7 linked regions of the Homo sapiens genome follow. The protein of the gene in region 6 purifies or fractionates together with the protein of the main gene of each other region. This does not show direct contact. Each region holds a gene or a part of one and is shown on either strand. Other genes may lie near its edges.

Region 1 (3,500 bases), on a different chromosome or scaffold from region 6:
TGTGAATCCCTTTACCCATGTATATGTGTTTGTCTTCACCGCTGATTTGCAAATAAGAAGTCTCATATCAAGTGGGAAGGGTAGATTTTTATAATTTCACTGAAATTCAATACCAAATGGTAAAATCTGGAATGCCTTGACTGTGAGAGAAAATAACAAAATATTTTAAATAGGGTATACATTCCAATTATTAGTTTTTGAAATTTATTCTAAAGAAATTTCTGCTCATATAAGGATGGGCAGAGGATAACTGGGCTTGAATAACTGGGCCACACCTACATTTAGGTGTGGTGGAGAGGCAGAGCTCCAGAGCAATCTGTTCAAAATTCTGTGATGCTGGAAATGCTCTATATCTTCTTAGTCCAATATAGTAACTACTAGCCACATGTGGCTATTAAACACTTGAAAGGTAGCTAGTGCGACTGATGAAACAGATTTCAAATCTTATTTAATGCTAAGTAATTGAAATAGCCACGTGTGTCTAGTGCTATCTTAATAGACAGTGACACTCTAGAATTAAGCACAACAAATAGGGTCTTTTATTTAATATCGGAGGTTAATTTCAAGCACCTCTGCTAAATTCGGATGATATAGATAGGACAAGAAGGTGAGTATTCTTTGTGCAATTTCCCTTTTATCTACAGAAATACAGATCAATGAAATCCTTTGATTCTAGTGACTGCAAGTCCAAGATTTTCCAGAGAAGTGTTGGTCTCAAGTAGTCTGTAGTTTTGTTTGCTTAAGAATTTTAATGCTCATTCATTTTCTCATTTATTTTTTTTAAAAAACCTTATATTGAATATATTTGTGTTGGACACTGACATTGAAAAGATAGTAGTAGTGCAGAGTTCCTTGATTCAGGAAATCCTTGGAGTATCCTAAGGAGTAAATGGTGCAGAGCAGATATTACAGAGGAGGGGAGAGAAAATGCTGTGTGGAGAAGGAAGCACTGGGATAAACCTTAAAGAAATGGCCAGTGTTCAATAGGAAGCTGGGGAAAGGAGGATCTTGAGAAACAGAACAGTATGGGAAAACCAGGGAGAGATGAGAATCAGAAATGTCTGGAAATGTAATAATGGCAGCAGCACAGAAAATAGACTAGTGTGTAGACAGAAATGAGTCCAGAAGTTAATGTTACAATCCAGAACAAGTATGAGGGAGGTTATGAGCTAAGGGGATGAAAGTAGAATTTAAAAAGAGTAGATTTGAGAGGTGTTTTGTCTGTTGCTTCTCTTTACAATAAGTCAGGTAGAGAACAACTGATTTATCTTTTAAGCCCCCTTGAAAATTGTCGATTACTGCATACAATGCTGGAGCAGGATTTTTGTGGCCAAGGAAACTGAGCGTATCTTACAATATGCAAGTTTTTCAAACAGGACCAACTTACATAAATCATCCTCTTGGAAGTAGGCGCAACTACATCATGTATGTAGTTGAAATGTATGACACATGACAATTTTGTTTGGGGATGTAATGTAACTGAGGTGGAAACTTAATATTTATGAGACTTCCTCTTTCGTTAAAATCTTAACATTCTTTGATTTTGACAAATAGTGTTTTTATTTCTTCCAAAAATACAAGAATTTTAAAAGTATATAATTAGGCATCGTTTAGAAAGGTCAAAAAAGCAATCGTCTGTTGAATTTATGATTTGGGTACATTATTCTTCTCCAGTCTTTACCCCATTTTGATGGACTTTTTTCTCTTGGCAGTATATCCAGGTTCATTTATAGGTGGGAAGACAGTAGAAGCTGTTATTCCAGCATCAAAGCCCCCACTGTTTTCTAATAAGACGTTAGGTTTTATTTCTTCCAAAGCCTTATGATCACTGCAGTCAAAAAAAGAAGGGTGGAAAATGCAGAAAAATGGTGGAGGAGGTGGAGTATGGTCTTGGTCATAAAGAAATGAAAGGAGAAAGGTATTACTGAAGAGTATGGGCATTAGTCTGACTGTAAGGAGGACTTTGGCAGTAACTACAAGCCAGAGTGAGTGAGGAAAGAATAGCAGCCATTTGGGCAATGTGCTGACCATGTGTGGCTTGATACTAGGAAACCTGAACATACAGCAGGACAGAGAGGAGCACATCATGTGAGAGTTCCATGAGTTCTCGGATTTAAGAAAATAGAAGACTTTCTAAGTGCCAGATACTGTTCTAAGTACTTTTTGTTTAACCTATTTAAGGCAATTAACCCTTTTTTTTTGGAGAACAGTCATAGAACATGGAAATCACTGAAGAAATGTAAGTAGTGGTGGGATGCAGTGGCTCACGTCTGTAATCCCAGTACTTTGGGAGGCTAAGGTGGGTGGATCACCTGAGGTCAGGAGTTCAAGACCAGTCTGGCACCAACATGGCGAAACCCCGTCTCTACTAAAAATACAAAAACAAAACAAAAACTAGCCAGGCATGGTGGTGTGGGTCTACTGTAGTCCCAGCTACTCAGGAGGCTGAGGCAGGAGAATCACTTGAACCAGGGAGGTGAAGGTTGCAGTGACCCCAGATCGCACCACTGCATTCTAGCCTGGGTGACAGAGTGAGACTTCATCTCAAAAAATAAAAAAATAAAAAAATAAGTAGTTATTATCTCTCCATCAATCCTCACAACAACCCTATGAGCAGGGTACTTTTACCATCTTTATTTTACAGATGAAGAAATTAAGGCCCGAGAGGTTAAGTAATCCCCCAAACAGCATACAGTTAATCAGAGAGAGCTCTATTTAATCAGCTCAACTACTACGCCATCCTGCCTACTCTTAATCTATGTTAATTTTATAATATGTACAGAGATGATACTTGTAACGTGCTCACAAAGTGCCTGACATATAGTAAACCTGCAAAAATGTTAGCAATTATCATTATGTAATAAGATTTAGAAGACTTTCCGGTATTTATGTCATTCTACACCGACACTGCTCAGAAATAGTAACAAGATTTTTAGGGCAGCTCTGGATTTTTCTTATGTAAAGTGTAAAGAAAGCTTTGTTTAGGAGCATGCCCTTATAAATTGGAGAAACTCTTCTTCTACCCAAATACTGTCAATCAGTTTGACTGGCACAGTTGAAGTTTTTACCTCAAAGAATGGGCCTCATTGAAATGTTCTATATACTCATCTACATGGCTCTGACCTTCTGACAGAGAATGACTGCTGCTAATGGTACTAATAAGAGCAAATGGAATTCCCTTCCAAGCTTGGTATTTGAATAATATGTCAATTTGTTCATTGCCGTCTTACTAGGAATTAAATGCGCTAATATTTTTATAACCTAAGGGAGCTAGTGCGAGGTTGGCAGCCAGAAAAGGGAATCAGGCCAGAGGCTGGCCAAGGCATAGTCATGAGGGGGTGGAAGGGTCACAAAGTCAAAGTCAAGCAGGTGGACCCAGGCAGAACCCAACCAGACTCTAGAACAAAGTTAGGTTCAAAGTTTGGTTCTTATCTCCTTTCCCTATAATGTGGGCTGGTAGGGGTGGGTTGATTGTCATCCTCTGTACAAAAAGAATTGTA
Region 2 (3,500 bases), on a different chromosome or scaffold from region 6:
TCCCCCTGCCACAGCCTCTCAAAGTGCTGGGGTTACAGGCTTGAGCCATTGCACCCAGCCCCCTAATTATTCTTACTCTATACTAAGTTCTTTTTTTCCCCTACCTTTGTAAATGTAGGCATTCCCCCAAAGTTCATAATTCATTTAATGCAGGTAAAGTAACACAGACTTCGGTGTCACAAAAACAGTGGGTTTGGATTCTACCTTTACCACTTCCTGAGTGACCTTAGGCAAGAAGCTTTGTGAACTTCAACTTCTTATCTGTAGATAACACTGTATTTCATCAGATTTATTAGAGGAAAAAGAAAATACATGTAAGAACATATTTTGTGGACTATAAAGCGCTATTTTTTTTTTCTTACTTTCCCTTGGTGATTGCATTTCCATTCACCTCTCCCACACTAAAGAAGAGTTAGTGTTTCTAACTACTAACTAGACATCTCCATCTGTAATTTCCAGTTTGTTAATGACACCACCATCTTTTTAGTCACTCTTGAGTTCCTTCTTTCCTTTGCCCATCATTTGCAATATACTGCTAGACTTTGATTGTACTTCTACATTCTGTGTGCAACTCTTCCTTTCCATTCCCATTAATATAACTCTGACTTGTTGCCTAGATTAATCCTGTGGCCTCCTAACCAAGCTTCAGCTTTTCTTCGTTTTATCTTGAATACCAGTATTGATTATTCTCCCACAATATTAGTTCTAGTCATGTTTTGCTGTCTCTCCATTGCCTATAGAATAAAATCTTAAACTTCTTACTTTACATCTACTATTACATGACCTAAATCTACCATCCTGTTTTGTCTTTCATTAGTCCACTTCACACACACCCTTTAAACCTGACAGTCTTGTTCACTGAACAAGTCCTTAGTTTCCTGTCTTGCCTTTATTTTCAGTCTCTGCTTATCAGAATCTCATCTGTCTTGTATGACCCAGCCTAAATGGCACCCGCCTTGTACCCCAAACCAAGAGCAGTATTTCCCTCTGTTTTCATTGTATCACTGTCTCTGGTAGAACCTAACATGTTCTGCTTTGTTTTCATATCCCATGTGCACTATTGTGTTCTAAGCTCATTTTATGTGATTCTTTGTCTCCCCCAAGGATTTAACACTCTGCTTTTGTACAATGCATGTTGTTTAAATTAAAAGTGTTTGGAGTCTTTAACTATTTTTTTTTCCCAACAATAGGTTTATGCTAAAACTATCGATGGGCAACAGACTATTATTGCATGTATTGAAAGCCACCAGTTTCAGCCTAAAAACTTCTGGTAAGAAGTAGATATTCTCTTCTATTTACATCTGAAAGAAACCAGCAGTTGAGACTTGGTTTTTAATCCAACTAGCTTGGAATAATTATTTAACTTACAGACTTCAGTTTTCCATCTATAAATGAGGGATTTAGATTCCTTACAGTTCTAAGGTTTTATAATTATATTTTCCTTTAAAAGTTACTCTTATTTTGAGTGAGAACAAGTGATTAGTAAAGTGCCCTGTTGAAAATCTGAGTTTTACTTGGCTTAGGGTTACTGCTACTTGAGTTAATTGTGTAACTCAGCAGCCTATTCATCTGATTTTGGAAGAGCCTCCCATGAGCAGAATAGGCATGGTTTTCCATTTCAAGGGAAAAAAGGAAAAATGAAAGACAAAATAACTTAGAAAAGGCTTATGGTCAGGCCACTTAGATCCAGACTTACATTTGAGTAGACAGAGCTTTGGGTTTGCCAAACTGGAAATGACAGTTTCTCTCTCTCTCTTTTTTTTTTTCTTTTTTTGCACCCCTCTTTCCCAACTTCTGTACCTCAGTGGCAAATCACCTCTTTCTTGTGCTTATTGCTAATTCTGCAATGTTGTGTGTGTGTTTTAATAGGAATGGTCGTTGGAGATCAGAGTGGAAGTTCACCATCACACCACCTACAGCCCAGGTGGTTGGCGTGCTTAAGATTCAGGTGAGATTCCAACATGTTTATAGACTTAAAACTTCACATCTTTAAAACATGTGCAGGTTGCTTTGGTATTAAATAAGGACCAAGTATGTGTAGATGCAAAGGGAGACTGATGGCAGTGAATAGAAATAGAAGCCTCCTTCTTGGGGTGGTAAACAGAGAGAGCTATTCTGAGTTGATAAAGGATAGCATGTAGAGTGTATGGCAACATGGTTATTGTTATTTTTCCTTCAATGGTAACATAAGATATAACTAGGAATTATCAAACAGCAGTTTTAGGAAAGATTTAAAATTAATAATAATAATAATTATTATTTTTTGGGACAGAGTTTCACTCCATCACCCAGACTGGAGTGCAGTGACGTGATCTCAGCTAACTGCAACCTCCACCTCCCAGCCCAGGCTGGGTTAATTCCTAAAAATTATAACTAGAGAGAATGGCAGGTGTTTTGGAATATAAATAGCCAAGCAGAAGTAGATTGATTGATTGATTGATTGATTGACTGATTGATTGATTTTTGAGATGGAGTTTTGCTCTTATTGCCCAGGCTGGAGGTGCAATGGCATGATCTCGGCTCTTCGCAATCTCTGGCTCCTGGGTTCAGGTGATTCTCCTGCCTCGGCCTCCCGAGTAGCTGGGATTACAGGCATGCGCCATCACGCCTAGCTAATTTTCTATTTTTAGTACAGGCGGGGTTTCTCCATGTTGGTTAGGCTGGTCTCGATCTCCTGACCTCAGGTGATCCACCCGCCTCGGCCTCCCAAAATGCTGGGATTACAGGCGTGAGCCACTGCACCTGGCCCAGAAGTAGATTTTTAATGCTGATGTCAGGGTAGACAGGCAGCTGAATAAGATAGCTGTTAACTCATTTGATGCCTGTCTGGATTGAAGTTTAATATCCTAGCAGAGGTTTGACTTTCTAAACTCAGGGTGATTTAATATTTAAGCCTCACTAACTGTAAGGTCAGAATAGGTACAGGTAACCGAGAAGATCAGTACCTAATCGTACCTGTATTATATTATGTGAAGCTGTGCTTTAACAACAATTACCAAGAGTTGTCTTTTTTTTTTTTTTTTTTTTTTTTTGAGAAGGAGGAGAAGGAGGAGTCTCGCTCTGTCGCCCAGCCTGGAGTGCAGTGGTGCAATCTTGGCTCACTGCAACCTCTGCCTCCTGAGTTCAAGCAATTCTCTTGCCTCAGCCTCCCAAGTAGCTGGGATTACAGGCACACACCACCACGCCCAGCTAATTTTTGTATTTTTAGTAGAGGTGGGATTTCACTATGTTGGCCAGGCTGGTCTTGAACTCCTGACCTCAGGTGAGCCACTGTGCCCAGCCAAGAGTTGTCTTTTTTAATGCTCTAATTTAATCAAGTGCATAGGTAATAAATTCTGTAAAAGTAAATCTGCTCTTTTTATATATACCTATAGCTTCCTGCAACAAGTAGCTCCTGGCCATAGGAGCATGCCCAACTCAGGTGAGACAGGCTGGTGTTGAGTTCACAGCTCTAGGAGGAGCCCTCAGTGATATGTAAGAGTTGGTAGATAAATATGGCA
Region 3 (3,500 bases), on a different chromosome or scaffold from region 6:
CACCAACTGTGTGCGCCAGGCCATGCGCTCCGGCTCACTGGAGAGGAAAGTGAAGAGCACATCCAGCCAGACGGTGGGCCTGGCCAGTGTGGGCACACAGACCATCCGCACGGTCAGCGTGGGCCTGCAGACCGACCCACCCCGCAGCAGCCTCCATGGCAAGGCCTGGTCACCCCGCAGCTCTTCGCTCGTGTCTGTGCGCAGCAAGCAGATCTCCTCCTCCCTGGACAAGGTCCATTCGCGCATCGAGCGGCCCTGCTGCTCCCCCAAGTATGGCTCACCAAAGCTCCAGAGGCGGTCTGTGTCCAAGCTGGACAGCAGCAAGGACCGCAGCCTGTGGAACCTGCACCAGGGCAAGCAGAACGGCTCGGCCTGGGCCCGCTCCACCACCACGCGGGACAGCCCTGTATTGAGAAACATCAACGATGGACTCTCCAGCCTCTTCAGTGTGGTGGAGCACTCAGGGAGCACGGAGTCTGTCTGGAAACTAGGCATGTCTGAGACGCGGGCCAAGCCCGAGCCTCCCAAGTACGGCATTGTGCAGGAATTCTTCCGTAATGTGTGTGGCCGGGCACCGAGCCCCACCTCATCAGCAGGAGAGGAGGGCACCAAGAAGCCAGAGCCCCTCTCCCCAGCCAGCTACCATCAGCCAGAGGGTGTGGCCAGGATCCTGAACAAGAAGGCAGCCAAGTTGGGCAGCAGTGAGGAGGTCAGACTCACCATGCTCCCCCAGGTGGGGAAGGATGGTGTCCTCCGGGACGGAGATGGAGCCGTGGTCCTTCCCAATGAGGTAGGTGGGTGGGATCTGTCCTTTCTCTTAGTAGGTGGAGTTAGTATATAAGGTCCAAGCTCTTTTGGTTTTTAAGTTCAGAGATATGGGCCGAGGTGGGTGGATCGCCTGAGATCAGGAGTTCAAGACCAGTCTGGCCAACATGGTGAAACCCCATCTCTACTAAAAATACAAAAATTGGCCAGGCGTGGTGGCATGCACCTGTTGTCCCAGCTGCTCTGGAGGCTGAGGTAGGAGAATCACTTGAACCCAGTAGGCGGAAGTTGCAGTGAGCTGAAATTGTGCTATTGCACTCCAGCCTGGGTGACAGACTAAGACTCCGTCTCACCAAAAAAAAAAAATTATCTATCTGTCTGTCTGTCTGTCTGTCTGTCTGTCTGTCTGTCTGTCTATCTATCTATCTATCTATCTATATATCTATATATATAAAATAAAAATTCAGGGATATGGCCATGTGTTCCAGGAAGTTCTTATGCTGGTCTAGGATAGAGTTGGAAGGTCCCAGACCTGGAACAACACAGACCTGATGGTCACATGGTCTGAATTCCAAGAGACTAGTGAGCATGGCTTAACTAGCAGCTTTTGCTCCACCCACCAGAGACTGCCAGCATCCCCTCCAGGGAAGGGGCCTTACTGCTCTCCTGCCACCCAGTGGTGTGCTAGAGCCAGCTTGTTTGGCTTGCAGGAGCCAATTGTCAGCATCTCTGTGGGTTTTTTTTTTTTTATTGTTTTTGTTTTTGTTTTGAGAGAAGTCTCGTTCTTGTCCCCCAGGCTTGAGTGCAATGACTCAATCTCGGCTCACTGTAACCTCCGCCTCCTGGGTTCAAACAATTCTGTCTCTGCCTCCCAAGTAGCTGGGATTAAGGCACCTGCCACCATGCCCGGCTAATTTTTGTATTTTTTAGTAGAGACGGGGTTTCACCATGTTGGCCAGGCTGGTCTCGAACTCCCGACCTCAAGTGATCCGCCCACCTTGGCCTCCCAAAGTGTTAGGATTACAGGCGTGAGCCACCGCGCCTGGCCACATCTCTGTGTTTAACATCACCTTGGTACCTTGAGATTGGCCACAGTGGGAGGATTTACAGCATAAAAATTGGTAAACACTACAAATCGGGGCTCCTCCTATCACTCCTGGAAAACTAATTGTTAAACATTAGCGGGCATACCACTTCTCCACCCCATCAAGACTTCACACCTAAGTGCTCACATTTCCTCTGAGAATCTTTCACACCCCACTCCTGCTATCAGTTTCTTATAAGTTAATTAGTAAACCTTATTTGAATGTTAGTGAGCATTATTTGAATGTGTTAGAATGTGCATAAGTTAACTTTGCAGAAAGGGAAGGAAATGTATTTGAAGGATGGCATGTTTTATAAAACCCAAGAGTAGGAACCTGACAACCTCAGCAGCTTCTCCCTGTCTTCCTCTCCTCTCTTTAAGCTTCACCCTCTCTGATATCATATTCCTCCTTTTTCTCTGTTTCTCTCTCTGTTGCATTTGCACAAGGACTGGGTGGGCTGTCCCAGCTCTGACTTTACAACATCTTCCAGTTCAAGCCCCTAGGAGAGACTGACACAAATCCCTGTCTCCCAATTCCACATTTCTGAAAGAAGGAAACTCTGATTGGTGCAGCTAGAGGCGAGTGTACCCCTTGGTCCAGTCTATGGCTGGGAGTGGTACCATGTGGTCTGCTGTGGGGCACAGAGACATGAGAAGGGCTGTGTGTGGAATGGGCTGTGATAGACTCAAACATTCTACTTTTCTATTATTGTACGTTTAGGTGGTTTCTAGTTTGTCCCTACTGCAAATAATGCTGTGGTGAACATCTTGGTGCAAAATCATTTTTTTACATTTCAGACTATTTCCTTAGGTATAAGTTGCAGAAATGAGATTAAAGGATAATAGAATATAAATGTGGCCGGGCGCGGTGGCTCATGCCTGTAATCCCAGCACTTTGGGAGGCCGAGGCGGGTGGATCACAAGGTCAGGAGTTTGAGATCAGCCTGGCCAATATGGTGAAACCCTGTCTGTACTAAAAATACAAAAATTAGCCGGGCATAGTGGTGGTCACCTGTAGTCCTAGCTACTCAGGAGGCTGAGGCAGGAGAATCGCGTGAACCCAGGAGGCGGAGGCTGCAGTGAGCTGAGATGGTACCACTGCACTCCAGCCTGGGTGACAGAGTGAGACTCCATCTCCACACAAAAAAAAAAATATAAATGTTTTAAAGTTATTTGATAAATACTGCCAAATTGTTTTTCAAAAGTGTGCCATATCTACAGCTTCCAGCAGTGTGTGGCGAGTGCGTTACTTTTCTATACTCTCACTCAGCTGGCTGACATTTAAAAACATCTTTTAAATATTTATTCCTTTTTTGGCCAGGTGCAATGGCTCATGTCTCTAATCCCAGCACTTTGGGAGACTGAGGTGGGCAGATCACTTGAGCTAGGAGTTCAAGACCAGTCTGAGCAACATGGTGAGAGCTCATCTCTACATTAAAAAAAAAAAAAAAGAGGCCAGGCATGGTGGCTTACGCCTGTAATCCTAGCACTTTGGGAGGCCGAGGCAGGTGGATTGCCTGAGCTCAGGAATTTAAGACCAGCCTGGGCAACACAGTGAAACCCCATCTCTACTAAAAAATACAAAAAATTAGCCAGGCGTGGCAGCATGCGCCTATAGTCCCAGCTACTCGGGAGGCTGAGGCAGGAGAAT
Region 4 (3,500 bases), on a different chromosome or scaffold from region 6:
TTTATCTCTTCAATAGTTGAAAAAGATTGTTATTCTTTACTTATTTGTCTTTACTTAACCTCCTGGATAGGGACCTTAACTCTAAAACTAAGCTAATAGTTTAAGACATACTGATTTTTGACTCTGAGAGGCTTGCTGATGAGCTCTTAATGATGGAGCATGTGGAGTTGGCAAGAATGACTTAAACTATTGGCCAATGTTTAAATTATGTATATGATTTTCCAGTGTTATATATTTGAATATAGACACACTGTTTTTTGTTTGTTTGTTTGTTTGTTTGTTTTGCAATTTGAACCTAAAGTTTGAACTTAATCATTGGGTTCCTACTGGAGATTTATCTTATCGTTATCTGCACAGAATAAACAAATAACTTTTCAACTTTCATATTTTGTCATGACATCACAACTTGAAAGATTTGTCAGTATAGGCTATTAAGTATTGACTCCATTTTGTTTATTTTATTTTATTATTATTATTATTTTTGAGACAGAGTCTTGCTCTGTCACCCAGCTGGAGTGCAATGGCACGATCTTGACTCACTGCAGCCTTCGCCTCCCGGGTTCAAGGGATTCTTCTGCCTGAGCCTCCGGAGTAGCTGGGATTACAGGTGCCCGCCACGATGACCAGCTAATTTTTGTATTTTTAGTAGAGATGGGGTTTCACCATGTTGGCCAGGCTGGTCTCCATTTTGTAATTAACCAAAATTGACTAAATGAAACGTTACACAATTGCACAAATATCATAAATAAAAATTTTTCTGTAACTAATGAACTTTTTTTGCTTCTTACCTGAGCTCTTTGAAATCACGTATTTTTTTTTTTTTTTTTTGAGATGGAGTCTCCCTCTGTCGCCCAGGCTGGAGTGCAGTGGTGCAATCTTGGCTTACTGCAAACTCTGCCTCCCGGGTTCACGCCATTCTCCTGTCTCAGCCTCCCGACTAGCTGGGACTACAGGCGCCTGCCACCATCCCGGCTAATTTTTTGTATTTTTAGTAGAGACGGGGTTTCATCGTGTTAGCCAGGATGGTCTCGATCTCCTGACCTCATGATCCGCCTGCCTCGGCCTCCCAAAGTGCTGGGATTACAGGCGTGAGCCATCGTGCCCGGCCTGAAATCAGGTATTAATTGGAAATAAATTACAACAGTATTTGTCAAGTCCAGAATCTATAACAGCACAATTTTGTTATGTGTTTGTTTTGTTTAGTATCTTTAGATACTAAAAAAATGTACTTTAGGATATATCCCAAGTGGCAAAATTCAAATAGTTAGTAGTATGTCATCTGCTTAACTCTAGCAAATGATGAACACTATCAATACAGTAATTTGTTGTGTGTTATATTTAATGAAACTATTTTGATTAACTTTTTTGTATCATTTATCCTTCTTATACAAGTGCCTGTGGGAAGACATTTAATTTGATTTGATATAGGTACTTTGGAAAACCTTAATTTCTCTATTTTGCACAGATTTTGTTTCAGTAATCCTTTGGGGGACAAATTATGACATCTGGGAAATATGAACATTTTCTGACTTTAAATAGTATTTAGTAATTTAATATTGGTACATCAGTTGTACCTGTTATGACTGGGAATACCGATACCCTTCATAAATACCTAACTTACCAGAAATAATTTATTCACTGGCCATATAGTTCATAATACTGCGCTATAATATACAATGTCCCTTAGAATTTCCAATCTGCCAGCTGCAGCCATTATTAAAATTAGTTTTATCTCTAGCTGAAAAGAGGGCCAGATAATATCTACCATTCTACCTAATTCTGATCTTCTGCATTAGAATATATAGTCAATAAATAACAGTGGATGGGATAGTGAGCAAAACCCGTAGCAGTAAATAAAAATGAATGTTACCAATGTAGAGTTGTTCTAGGCTACTCCTCATATTTTTAAGACTAACTTCGTAGTTTAGCTAGCACCAATTTCCAAAGAATATAGATTCTTATGTAGATTTTATCTTATATGGGGCTTCATATGAAGACAGTGAAGGCTGGGTGTGGTGGTTCATGCCTGTAATCCCAGCACTTTGGGAGGCTGAGGTGGGCATATCACAAGGTCAGGAGTTCAAGCCCAGCTGGCCAATATGGTGAAGTCACATTTCTACTAAAAATACAAAAATTAGCCGGGTGTGGTGGTGCACACCTGTAGTCCCAGCTACTGGGAGGCTGAGGCAGGAGAATCACTTGAACCTGGGAGGCAGAGGTTGCAGTGAGCTGAGATCGCACCACTGCACTACTTCAGCCTGGGTGACAGAGCGAGACTCCGTCTCAGGAGAAAAAAAAAAAAAAAAAAAAAAAAAAGAAAATGAGCCAGAGAGAAATTAAATGGCTTTCTTTATGATAGTCACACCTTGTTAATTTGGGCTTCAGTTTCCTTTTGCAGTATCTTTGAAAAAAAGCTATGTTAAATAAATGAAAAGTGTAATGAGACTGGGTCAAAACTCTTTGAGCTACCATTTCTTATTTTTCCTCTTTTTCTTCACTCCCCCAACAACCGTTTCTATATGAGACGTATTTTTAATTTATGGATTAGTCAGCATACTGATAATAATACCTTAATGTGAATCTGAATCTCATAAAGCTCTAGTAAGAACTTTTTTTTTTTTTTTTTTTTTTTGAGACAGGGTCTAGCTCTGTTGCCCAGGCTGGAGTGCAGTAGCATGATCTCGGCTCACTGCAGCCTCCACCTCCTGGACTCAAGCTATTCTTGTGCCTCAGCCTCCCAAGTAGCTGGGATTACAGGTGTGTGCCACCACGCCCGGCTAATTTTGTATTTTTAGTAGAGATGGGGTTTCTCTGTGTGGTCCGGGCTGGTCTCCAACTCCTGGCATCAAGTGTTCCACCCACCTTGGCCTCCCAAAGTGTTGGGATTACAGATGTGAGCCACCGCACCTGGCCTAAAACTTTTTTTTTTTTTTTTGAGACAGGGTCTCACTCTGTTGCCCAGGCTAGAGCACAGTTGTGCAGTCATGGCTCACTATAGCCTTGACCTCCTGGGCTTAAGAGATCTTCCCACCTCAGCCTCCTGAGTAGCTGGGACCACAGGTATGTGCCACCACTCCCAGCTAATTTTTGTATTTTTAGTAGAGACGAGTTTTTGTCATGTTGCCCAGGCTGGTCTCAAACTCCGGGGCTCAAGCAATCTTCCTGCCTCGGCCTCCCAAAGTGCTGGGATTACAGGCATGAGCCACAGCGCCTGGCCAGAAATTTTATTAGGTAACACTTTTTCCTCATTTGAATTATTATATGCATTTAAAAATAAATTGATTTATTTAAAAGTTATTGATTTAGACATTTTATAATTTAGACATACATTTATTTCATTTGAATAACTATTTTACGTATCCTATCCTCACTTTATCTAATTTGCTGTATAGGTCAGTTAATGGCAGAGATATATAACTAGGTCTTCTGACCTCCACCTTTGTTACTTTATTTGCTTGATACGTACTGAGACTTTGTCTCGTTTATCTTTAGAAAGTGCC
Region 5 (3,500 bases), on a different chromosome or scaffold from region 6:
AGAAGAGAAGGGATCACAGTAATGCTTTTGGGGTGGGAGGAAGCCCACCTTCACGTTCAGTAAAAGGGATACGTGAGGCCGGGCATAGTGGCTCAAGCCTGTTATCCCAGCACTTTGGGAGGCCAAGGCGGGTGGATCACGAGGTCTGGAGATCGAGACCATCCTGGCTAGCACGGTGAAACCCCGTCTCTACTAAAAATACAAAAAATTAGCCGGGCGTGGTGGCGGGCGCCTGTAGTCCCAGTTACTGGGGAGGCTAAGGCAGGAGAATGGCGTGAACCCAGGAGGCAGAGTTTGCAGTGAGCTGAGATTGTGCCACTGCACTCCAGCCTGGGCGACAGAGTGAGACTGCATCTTAAAAAAAAAAAAAAAAAAAAAGGGATACATGAATGGAAGAAAGAAAATTAGCTTCAGCATCTGAACACTCAAAACAGTTTGTAAACATCAGTGTTTAATTAAATTATTTTGAGGATTATCTTCAACTATCAGGAAAAATGAAATGATTCTGAAATATGTTGTGGATTCTGAGTTGAACTGAAAGCTCCATGTGGGGGTGTAAAGGCTCTGCTTATCCAGCCACGTGTCCAGGTTAAGGCCTTAACATAGGACTGAAACAGAAGACTGTTAACTTTTTGCCATTCCCAAACATAGAAACAGATGTCCATCCACAGCTCTTCAGCCATTCTGGATGGCTAATTAGATGGGGGTATGGACTGCATTGCCATCAACTCAGATAAAATTCATTGCTCTTTTAATAAGGCAATACATAAATTGTATGTGTATGTCTGTTTTTGTTTTAGGATGTGTGTAGTAATCAGTTCAGTGATGCTACTGTGTGATTGAATGAACTGAGTAGATCGTTAAGGGTTCTTTTCTAACCACTATATTATTCAAGAATTCATTTAGAATGTCTTTAATTTCCTCCAGTTGGTAGCCCAATAGTGTACTGCCTTAAATGTTCAAAAAGCATGCCTCTGCCATTTGCAGTAACTGGAAACCTTAGGAATTTCTGCCAAAGTCCTTCAAAGCATAAAGCTGAAGTATGTATTGAAATGCTTGAGTCAGCTGCTCAAGGGTTATACTGACTGCACTCCTGCTGATTTTTCTAGGGTAAAAAAATCTCCTTGGTGACCTGAGGCAGCTACCCAGAAGCACGTGTATTATAACTATGCACAAAAAGCACAGAGATATACTACATCTAAATTCTAGCATTGGAATTGTTATATTTTTTATTATTATACTTAATTTCAGTAAATCTTTTTTAATAACGTATAAGAAAATAACTTTAACTCTTCTACTGATTACCATTAAAATTTTTTAACTCTTCTCTAACTTTCTAATTTAGGGAAGGAAAAAGAAAGGTACCTACTGTATTTATTGAATGTTTAGTATGTGCCTGAAATTTTTATTTGCTTAGTGTTACTCCCATTTTGTAGATGAGGACCTCAGAACAGTTAAGTGCGGTCACATAGCTTTGAATAGCAAGCACAGTTAGGATTTGAACAAGGTCTTCTTGATTCCAAAGGCATCTCTATGACCACATCATGCTGTAGAATGAGCTATCAACTATTAGGCCTATAAAAGACTATCAACCTTATTAAATAAAAAAACTAAGGTGCAGCACGGTAAGCATAATGTACCACCATATGTATGATCAGATATACACGCATGTGTATGTGTTTATTTTCATACATGCTTAGCATACCAGGCATCTCTTTGAATGGTTGCCTCTAGGAATGGAGACAGGGTAGCTAGAAATCTGGACTTTTATTATAAAACCTTTTATACCTCTTGAGTTTTGTTTTATGTGCATGTATTACCTATTCACAGGAGAAACTGTGTGTACCACTGTGCCCAGCCAGTTTGTCTAGTTTTTGAAACAAGAACACCATGCCTCGAGTGACAGTAATTGTAGTCATGACTGAAGTAAAACAAGTATTTTATGAGTTTTAAATTTGAACTTAAAAAAGCTTCCTATCTACTAAAAGCTTGATTTTCATTTGGGGCCACATTAATGGAAATAGAGTATTTTGAACAAGCAAGGGGGATCAGTTGAGTTGGCTTTGTGCTTATTAGATCATACCTTATCTTGAATATACTTTATTTTTGCACTTGATTTTAAGAACTGTAATGGCCTGTTTACATAGCTGTCTCCCCTGCAAGGCTGGGCATTCCTTGAGGGATAGAATCCATGGCTCATTTGCCCTTGTGTCTTTACTGGCTAGCCTAATTCCCAACACTTGGTAGGTAGCTAATAAAAGTTGATTGAGTTGAATGGAAATAGAAATACTTAGCTTAGTATGGGGAGGAGAGAGAAGAGAAAAATCTGTCTTCAGATAATTACAGAGTTCTCATGTAGAAGAGAGATTAAGTTTGTTCTATATGGCTTGAGAAGACAGGGAACCAGTGGGTAGAAGTATGGAGAAGTTTCTAAAGGTTGAATCATCTAAAGCCTAGATGGGTCTGTCTTAGAATCTATCTCCAGGGGATTCATGGCTCTTTAACTTACTTTTTTCCCCCATTTTTTGTTTGTTTGTTTGTTTGTTTGTTTTTGAGGCAGAGTCTTGCTCTGTCGCCCAGGCTGGAGTGCAGTGGCACAATCTCACTGCAGCCACCGCCTCCCGGGTTCAAGCAATTCTCCTGCCTCAGCTTCCTGAGTAGTTGGGACTACAGGCGCATGCCACCACGCTCACCTAATTTTTTGTATTTTTGGTAGAGATGGGGTTTCACTACGTTGACCAGGCTGGCCTTGAACTCCTGACCTCAAGTGATCCACCCGCCTCGGCCTCCCAAAGTGCTGGGATTACAGGAGTGAGCCACCGCGCCCAGCTCTTTCCTCCACTTTGTTATAGATATAGCATGTATGTGAATACTTTAGTTATCATTTATTATAGGAAGCAAAATTACTAACCTTCTTCTTTGATTTTTTTGTTCATAGTCAAGTTCATCCGAGAAGTAACACCATATATCAAGAAGCCATCATTAGTATCAGATCTGCCGTGGGAAGGTGCAGCCCCCCAGTCACCAAGCTTTAGTGGCAGTGAGGACTCTGGTTCGCCAAAACACCAGAACAGCACCAAGGACAGGAAGATCATCCCTCTCAAAATGTGCTTTGCTGCTAGAAACCTAAGCATGCCGGATCTGGAAAACAGGTGAGGTGTACCTAACAAGAACATCATACCTACAGCTTTACAAACTTAAGGACATGTTGCAGTATTATATGACTCTGTTAACTCAGTTATACAGAGGAAAACATCTGTCTGAGGTGAGAGATGCATTTTTGGGGTTCCACATTTTAAGTTATTCTACATATATACATGTATATGTGTAGAAAAAATTTTGAACAGACACACAAGAAACTGTTAATGGCTTTACCTCTAGGGTGTCAAATAAGACTAAAGGGGTGAAAGAAAGAGGGGGCATCTTTTCTTCCTTTTATGTCTTTCTGTAATGTTGTTATTACTTTTTTCACTATGAATATGTATTACTTTATAATTGAA
Region 6 (3,500 bases):
CTCAGGGTAGCCAGTCACTGTATCGATTTAATATTAAGTCTCATTCCAGTAAAAGCAGGGACTTTGGAAAACCTTGGATGCACCTATTCCAGACAGATTCCTGTATTCTTTTTTTTTTTTTTTTTTGAGATAGAGTCTCGTTCTGTCGCCAGGCTGGAGTGCAGTGGCACAATCTTGGCTCACTGCAATCTCCGCCTCCTGGGTTCAAGCGATTCCCCTGCCTCAGCCTCCTGAGTAGCTGGGACTACAGGCACACACCGCCACGCCCGGCTAATTTTTTGGATTTTAGTAGAGACAGCGTTTCACCATGTTGTCCAGGATGGTCTCAGTCTCCTGTCCTCGTGATCCGGCCTCCCAAAGTGCTGGGATTACAGGTGTGAGCCACTGCGCCGGGCCTGATTCCTGTATTCTTTAAAACGGGAAAAAAGACAAGCAGCAGCTCCTCAGGTCACAAGGCCAGGTATATCAAACACTGGCCTCCGAGAATAGATCATGCCACCAAGTGAAAGAAACCTCTTCTTGGTCCTGTTGTGATTTTAGATAAAGTAGTCATGGAAGCTTGGTCATTACTATAGTCTTAATGTTATTTTTTTTAAAAAGGGGATTTAGTTGGGCTGATTTCCTCCCCTAAAGGTCCTCTGTCACCTTATTTAAATTTAAAACTGGTTTTACCAGAAAATAGGTAAACAAACACCACTGGTTGTCTCCAGTCTCTTTTCTTGCTCTTCCTCTCCCTCTTCTTTAAAAATGTGGCTGATGAGAACCTGTTTCCAGGAGCCCTTTAATCACTCTGAAACACACAGACACTGAAAATGTTGAAGCATAAAAATAAACCTTGCGTTACAGGGAGATTGCCTGTGTGCTGTCCACTTCGCTTATAACAGTGAAAGTAGGAGATTAAAAAAAAAAAAAAGTTAAGCCCTGTCTTTAAGATGGTTTTTGTGACACCTGATTCCAGATGTGCTTTTTCACAGCCATAGACTTCCTGCTTTTGCAGAAGGAGGGTTCTAATCTGGGGCTCGTAGCTTGGGGGATTCTTAGTTTGTGAGCTGAGCTTTTTGTTCACTTCTTTTCCAAATGACTCTGCTGGCCTGAAGCTTGGCAGTTGTGAAAGCAATCAGCAAGATGACTGTTTGTCTTCCAGCCAGCAGCAGCAGTCACAGGCAAGCCTGGAGAAAGGTCCAGCTTCCAGAGTTCACCTGCTAGAGTTTTCCATAACACCTGGGGGAGAGGCTACTCCATCTGGGACCTGCCCCACCTCTGGGCCTCAGAAACTATGAGAGAGGGATTGAGAGAAAACTTGCCCCACTTCTGCTGCAGTGGGAAGGGAGGGGGCTGCTGTCAGGCTTCTAGGCAGTGAGCGGCATTGTTTATTCTCTCAGTTCTAGGAAGGGGAGTTTAGAAGTACTGGTGAAGAAAACAAAGTTACAAGATCCTATAAGGAACAGCTGAACTACTCCAAACACTCTCACTGGACCCCCATTGTTGATTCTGGATAAAAATATATATATATATAAAACTCTTTTTTTTTTTGACACAGAGTCTTGCTCTGTCGCCCAGGCTGGAGTGTAGCGATGCGATCTCGGCTCACTGCAACCTCCGCCTCCCGGGTCAAGCGATTCTCCTGCCTCAGCCTCCTGGGAGTAGCTGGGACTACAGGCGCCCACCACCATGCTGGCTAATTTTTGTATTTTTAGTAGAGACGGGGTTTTGCCATATTGGCCAAGCTGGTCTCGATCTCCTGACCTCAGGTGATCTGCTGGATAAATATTTTTTTTTTGCTTTTGGTGTAACTTAGGTAGATTGGATCGGCTAGCTAGCATCTCAGTCCACACTCTGAGCTGTGCAGCAGTGTGCCCTGGTGCTAATTCTCACTCTGTCCTTTGATTCTGGCCAGGGGGTCCTTGGTGGTGCTGCCTTCTGGTCAGGAATGTGGGTGAATGTCAGACCAAATAGTGTCACTTTCGGCTTGGCCCTAGAGATCAGGAAGGAAGTGTTGTTAGAGCAAGGGCTTTGGGAGTCCTTGGAGTTCGTAACCTTTGAATCTGAAAAGTAACTGTACCTAGTAAATTAGAATAATTTCTCTCTGGTCAGGCACCATGGCTCATGCCTGTAGTCCTAGCACTTTGGGAAGCCAAGGCAGGAGGATTGCTTGAGGCCAGGAGTTCAAGACCAGCCTGATCAATAAAGTGAGACTCCATCTCTACAAAAAAATTTTTTTAAATTTAGCTGGGCATGGTGGCACATGCCTGTGGTTGCAGCTACACAGAAGGCTGAGGCAGGAGGATGGCTTGAGCTGGGGAGGTCGAGACTGCATTGAGCTGTGTTTGTGCCACTGCACTTCAGCCTGGGTGACAGAGCAAGACACTATCTCAGAAAAAAAAAATTACTTTTCTCCAATTTATGGACTTCGGAAAGTAGCTAAACAGATGGATATAAGACAGTTGTTGAAACTCGGCCTGCTGCAGATTAAAATAAAGTTTGCACAAGGATAACTTAATCTTTCAGACCAACCAAAGTTTGGGCTGGAGATTTTTCTCAGCATAAATGTCCTAAGCAGAGTTGGTGCCTATGAGGTAGGAAAAGATTGAGACTTTGCTTGCCTAAGAGGTTTGCAGGGTTCGAGCTTTTGGGAGTCAGAACTTCTCAGACTAGATTGTTTCCCCTTTGGACAGAACAACCCAATTCTCAGTGGGCATTTGATCAGGACTAACCCAGGCCTTCATGAACTCTTTCCCATTGAGCACTTAGCCACCTGGCTGGCATTTCTCTTCTCCCAGGAGCTTCCATGAGGTTCCTACTTATGTATTATGTCGACTTGAATGAATATTTTATGTCTAGAGTGCAGCCAAGCCTCAGACTTTGTGGCCCATTATCGACAAATGGGGTAGGGGGTGGGCGCCACCTTTGGCCCCGTGATAGCTTCTCTGCTAAATGGACTCCCCCCAGCAGCACTTTGAAGCCCATTAATGGATTGGAATGAAGTAACCTCAGCAGATGGAAAGGGTGAGGAGGGTGGTCATCTTCCTTCCCTGAGACTGCCTGATGAGGCTTTCCTACAGTAACCAGGACAAGCCCCTATTCCCTCTGCTTGGTTAAGCTGTGGACTGGAGCTACTAGGCCTCTGCTTTGAGAGGAAGTATAGAAAGGATTTGATTCTCTTTTAGCCATGGTGGGGCCGCCAGTTTCCCCACTTTCCCATCAAAGCAAAAATTGAGAAGGATGTGGAAAGGGTGGGTGGAGTTTAAAGCTGGCCCTTCCTCCTTCAGTGGAAGTTCAGCAAAATGACAAACCAGATAGGTGGCTAAATTTCCTTCTCTTGATGGGAGATTCCAGTATTTGTACGTTTTGTGCTTGTAGCTTGGATTCTCCAGGCCTCCTCCCAGCTTTCATCAAACATGAGTGAGTCACTGAAGTGTTGTCTATGCATTTTCTCCCTTCTGTCTCTGCAAAGGGAAGAGTAAGCCTTTACAAACCTGTGGGGGAGGAAGTCACCCTCT
Region 7 (3,500 bases), on a different chromosome or scaffold from region 6:
TTTTTTGTATTTTTAGTAGAGACGGGGTTTCACCGTGTTACCCAGGGTGGTCTCGATCTCCTGACCTCGTGATCCTCCTGCCTCGGCCTCCCAAAGTGCTGGGATTACAGGCGTGAGCCACCGCGCCCGGCTTATAGAACCACTTTCTAAAAATCAGAAGAAATTTTTTTTTAAAGAAATGGCAGTAAAAAATAGGAATAATAAGTGTAGTTTGAAAAATACTGAACTTTTAGCCTTCGCTTTAGGATTCAGTTTAATTTGGCTTTTCCCATTTTTCAGCTTTTTGGAGTAACTGTTATAAACCAAAAATAAAATGAGTATTTATTTATTTATTTTTTGAGACAGAGTTTCCCTCTGTTGCCCAGCCTGGAGTGCAGTGGTGCGATCTTGGATCACTGCAACTTCCGCCTCCCGGTTCCAAGCGGTTCTCGTGCCTCAGTCTCCCAAATGGCTGGGATTACCGGCATGTGCCACCACACCCAGCTAATTTTTGTATTTTTAGTAGAGACAAGGTCTCACCATGTTGGCCATGCTGGTCGCGAACTCCTGGCCTCAAGTGATCCACCGGCCTCAGCCTCCCAAAGTGCTGGGATTACAGGCATGAGTAACCGCGCCCAGCTAAAATGAGTGTTTTCTTAAGTTTCCTTACAAATATCAAATAAAAGCCTCTCTTTTTTGTATTGGCAAGTGTGGTTAGAAGGCTAATTTAAAATAGAACAATTGGTATCTTTTTATGCATTTGGTTGATTGCATTTGAGATTACCCTATTGTTCAGAATGTATACTGGTTTCAAGTTGGATGAAGGATAGACATATTTCCCGTAGGCTTTTGAAATCAAGCATGATAAAGTGATACTTTGAGTACTTCCTAATACCTAGTTGTGCTAAGTATGTTCCTTTTCGTAAATAATTTTTTTAAAATACTAACATAAGCCAGGCGCAGTGGCTCATGCCTATAATCCCAGCACTTTGGGAGGCCGAGGTGGGCGGATCACTTGAGGTCAGGAGTTACAAACCAGCCTGGCCAACGCGGTGAAACCCAGTCTCTACTAAAAATACAAAAATTAGCCGGGCGTGGTGGCGTGCGCCTGTAATCCCAGCTACTCAGGAGGCTGAAGGCAGGAGAATTGCCTGAACCCGGGAGGCTGAGGTTGCAGTGGGCTGAGATCATGTCGTTGCACTCCAGCCCGGGCAACAGAGTGAGGCTCTGTCTCTTTAAAAAACAAAAGCGAAAACATATATTCAACTCTTAAAACATTTTGAGGTAGAGTATTATACTTTTATAGTGTGCGAAAATAAAATGTTACAGGAAACACTTGAGCTGAAAAAATGTCATTTGTTCATTGCTTTGAGCTTTACATTTACCTCTTAATTGATGCTTGCCATAAGGTGTTTAGTGATGTCATAATGATAGTGGTAATAACTGGTATGGTTACAACTAATAATATTGTTTTCTGCTGTGGTTCTGAATTAGATGGACTTCTAGGAATACTGTGGTAACAATGAAACATAACTCTGGCCTAAACCCAACTGAACATGTTCTTTCATAATAGGTATTGGGGGGTAAGGGGTGAATCTTAACTTTAGTGATGACTTTGGTGAAATGAACTTGATTAATAATTGGAATTTGATCACTTCCTGGCTTGAATGAAGCTGGTAAATTAATCTGAGGCCAAGCAATAAATGGTGAGTTGATAACCTCTATTGTCATGTTGTAATATTTATGTGTGTGAACAGAAAGGGTTGAGAGAGTCATGATTTTTCAGACTGGATGAAATGTGTATTTTTATACTCTGAAAAGATGATGAAGACATAAAGTCTTCTGGATAGTATTTTCCTGAGTTATAGCCTAATTACATAAATTTTGCATTAAGAAAGTGAAGAACGTGATCATCAGACACTTTTTAAGCAATATCATTTTTTATTTTTTTTGAGACAGAGTCTCATTCTGTCACCCAGGCTGGAGTGCGATCTCGGCTCACAGCAACCTCCGTCTCCGGGGTTCAAGCGATTCTCCTACCTCAGCCTCCCGAGTATCTGGGATTAGAGGCGTAAACCACCATACCTGGCTAATGTTTTGTATTTTTGTAGAGTCGGGGTTTCACCATGTTGACCAGGTTGGTCTTGAACTCCTGACCTCAAGTGATCCGCCTGCCTTGGCCTCCGAGAGTGCTGGGATTACAGACATGAGCCACTGCACCCAGCCAATTTTTAAGCAATAACATGTTATTCATTATTATTATTACTATCAGGATTTTCATATTTTACACTGGCAAAGTAATATTCTAAGAAGAGCAATTTATTGTATAGGGTCATTTAAGGATGGGCATGATCAACATAAAAATAACATCAAATTACTTTTCTTTTCTTTTTTTTTAGACAGAATCTTGTTCTGTTGCCCAGGCTGGAGTGCAATGGCGCAATCTCGGCTCACTGCAACCTCCGCCTCATGGGTTCAAGTGATTCTTCTGCCTCAGCCTCCCGAGTAGCTGGGACTACGGGCGTGTGCCACCATGCCTGGCTAATTTTCGTATTTTTAGTAGAGACAGGATTTCACAGTATTGGCCAGGCTGGTGTTGAATTCCTGACCTCGTGATCTGCCAGCCTCGGCCTCCCAAAGTGCTGGGATTAAGGCGTGAGCCACCACGCCTGGCCCCAAATTACTTTTCATACCAATATTTTGATTTCTGTTTTTCTTTAATTAAAAAAAAAATGGTTACCTAGCATAGTGCTTGTTACCTTGGCATTAGAAATGTTTGTGAATTATTCTTTCAATAAATATGGTGTGCTAGACATTGTATAAGCCTCTGGGGATACATCATTGAACAAGAAAGATAAGGTTCTTGCTCTACGGAGGCTTGTATTTTACTTTTAAAAACATTTTTTAGGTTTTGTTTGTTTGTTTGTTTTGTTTTGTTTTTGAGACAGTGTCTCACTCTGTCAGTCAGGCTGGAGTGCGGTTGTGCAATCATAGGTCTCTGCAGCCTTGACCTGCCAGGATCAAGCAGTCCTCTCACTTCAGCCTCTCAGGCTCAGCTGGGAATACAGGCATGTGCACTGACTGCTGGCTAATTTTTGTATTTTCTGTAGAGATGAGGTCTCACTGTTACCCAGGCTGGTCTTGAACTTTTAGGCTCAAGTGATCTCCTGCCTGGGCCTTCCAAGTATTGGGATGACAGGCATGAACCACCATGCTGCCTGGTAGTGGCTTGCATTTTAGAGGGGAGGATCAGTAAGTAAACAGATAGTGAGATGATGCAGCTAGTGTTAAGTACTAAGAGGAAAAGAAGATTGGTGAGGTGGCAGAGGATGGGCAGAGCTCCTTGAGTAGCTGGTCAGGGAGGCCTCTGAGGAGGTAACATTGTTACCTGAATGATGAGAAGAAGCCAGACGTGAAGGGAGAAGTGTTCAGGTGGAGGGAACAAAAAATCTCCAAGGCGGAAATGAGTTCGAGAAGTTTGAAGAACTCCAGTGAGTCTGGAGCTTAGTGAGCAGGACTGT

The links.
Region 1: the proteins of MARK2 (region 6) and DTNA purify together in Homo sapiens (affinity purification with mass spectrometry; 2 studies listed by BioGRID and IntAct, with this or other methods). This does not show direct contact.
Region 2: the proteins of MARK2 (region 6) and CAPZA1 purify together in Homo sapiens (affinity purification with mass spectrometry; 2 studies listed by BioGRID and IntAct, with this or other methods). This does not show direct contact.
Region 3: the proteins of MARK2 (region 6) and MTCL2 purify together in Homo sapiens (affinity purification with mass spectrometry; 2 studies listed by BioGRID and IntAct, with this or other methods). This does not show direct contact.
Region 4: the proteins of MARK2 (region 6) and MRPL22 purify together in Homo sapiens (affinity purification with mass spectrometry; one large-scale study listed by BioGRID and IntAct). This does not show direct contact.
Region 5: the proteins of MARK2 (region 6) and SNTB2 purify together in Homo sapiens (affinity purification with mass spectrometry; 2 studies listed by BioGRID and IntAct, with this or other methods). This does not show direct contact.
Region 7: the proteins of MARK2 (region 6) and CEP85L purify together in Homo sapiens (affinity purification with mass spectrometry; 2 studies listed by BioGRID and IntAct, with this or other methods). This does not show direct contact.

Annotation. Positions count from the first base shown.
Region 1 is NC_000018.10:34,716,798-34,720,297, forward strand, and holds part of DTNA (dystrobrevin alpha), read left to right. Parts: intron 1-3,500. UniProt on the Homo sapiens protein: May be involved in the formation and stability of synapses as well as being involved in the clustering of nicotinic acetylcholine receptors.
Region 2 is NC_000001.11:112,657,832-112,661,331, forward strand, and holds part of CAPZA1 (F-actin-capping protein subunit alpha-1), read left to right. Parts: intron 1-1,190; coding exon 1,191-1,270; intron 1,271-1,869; coding exon 1,870-1,948; intron 1,949-3,374; coding exon of another isoform or gene 3,375-3,404; exon of another isoform or gene 3,405-3,421; intron 3,422-3,500. UniProt on the Homo sapiens protein: F-actin-capping proteins bind in a Ca(2+)-independent manner to the fast growing ends of actin filaments (barbed end) thereby blocking the exchange of subunits at these ends.
Region 3 is NC_000020.11:36,790,539-36,794,038, reverse strand, and holds part of MTCL2 (microtubule cross-linking factor 2), read left to right. Parts: coding exon 1-790; intron 791-3,500. UniProt on the Homo sapiens protein: Microtubule-associated factor that enables integration of the centrosomal and Golgi-associated microtubules on the Golgi membrane, supporting directional migration. Preferentially acts on the perinuclear microtubules accumulated around the Golgi.
Region 4 is NC_000005.10:154,951,073-154,954,572, forward strand, and holds part of MRPL22 (large ribosomal subunit protein uL22m), read left to right. Parts: intron 1-3,500.
Region 5 is NC_000016.10:69,242,664-69,246,163, forward strand, and holds part of SNTB2 (beta-2-syntrophin), read left to right. Parts: intron 1-2,938; coding exon 2,939-3,152; intron 3,153-3,500. UniProt on the Homo sapiens protein: Adapter protein that binds to and probably organizes the subcellular localization of a variety of membrane proteins. May link various receptors to the actin cytoskeleton and the dystrophin glycoprotein complex.
Region 6 is NC_000011.10:63,842,110-63,845,609, forward strand, and holds part of MARK2 (serine/threonine-protein kinase MARK2), read left to right. Parts: intron 1-3,500. UniProt on the Homo sapiens protein: Serine/threonine-protein kinase. Involved in cell polarity and microtubule dynamics regulation. Phosphorylates CRTC2/TORC2, DCX, HDAC7, KIF13B, MAP2, MAP4 and RAB11FIP2. Phosphorylates the microtubule-associated protein MAPT/TAU.
Region 7 is NC_000006.12:118,645,092-118,648,591, reverse strand, and holds part of CEP85L (centrosomal protein of 85 kDa-like), read left to right. Parts: intron 1-1,217; exon of another isoform or gene 1,218-1,685; intron 1,686-3,500. UniProt on the Homo sapiens protein: Plays an essential role in neuronal cell migration.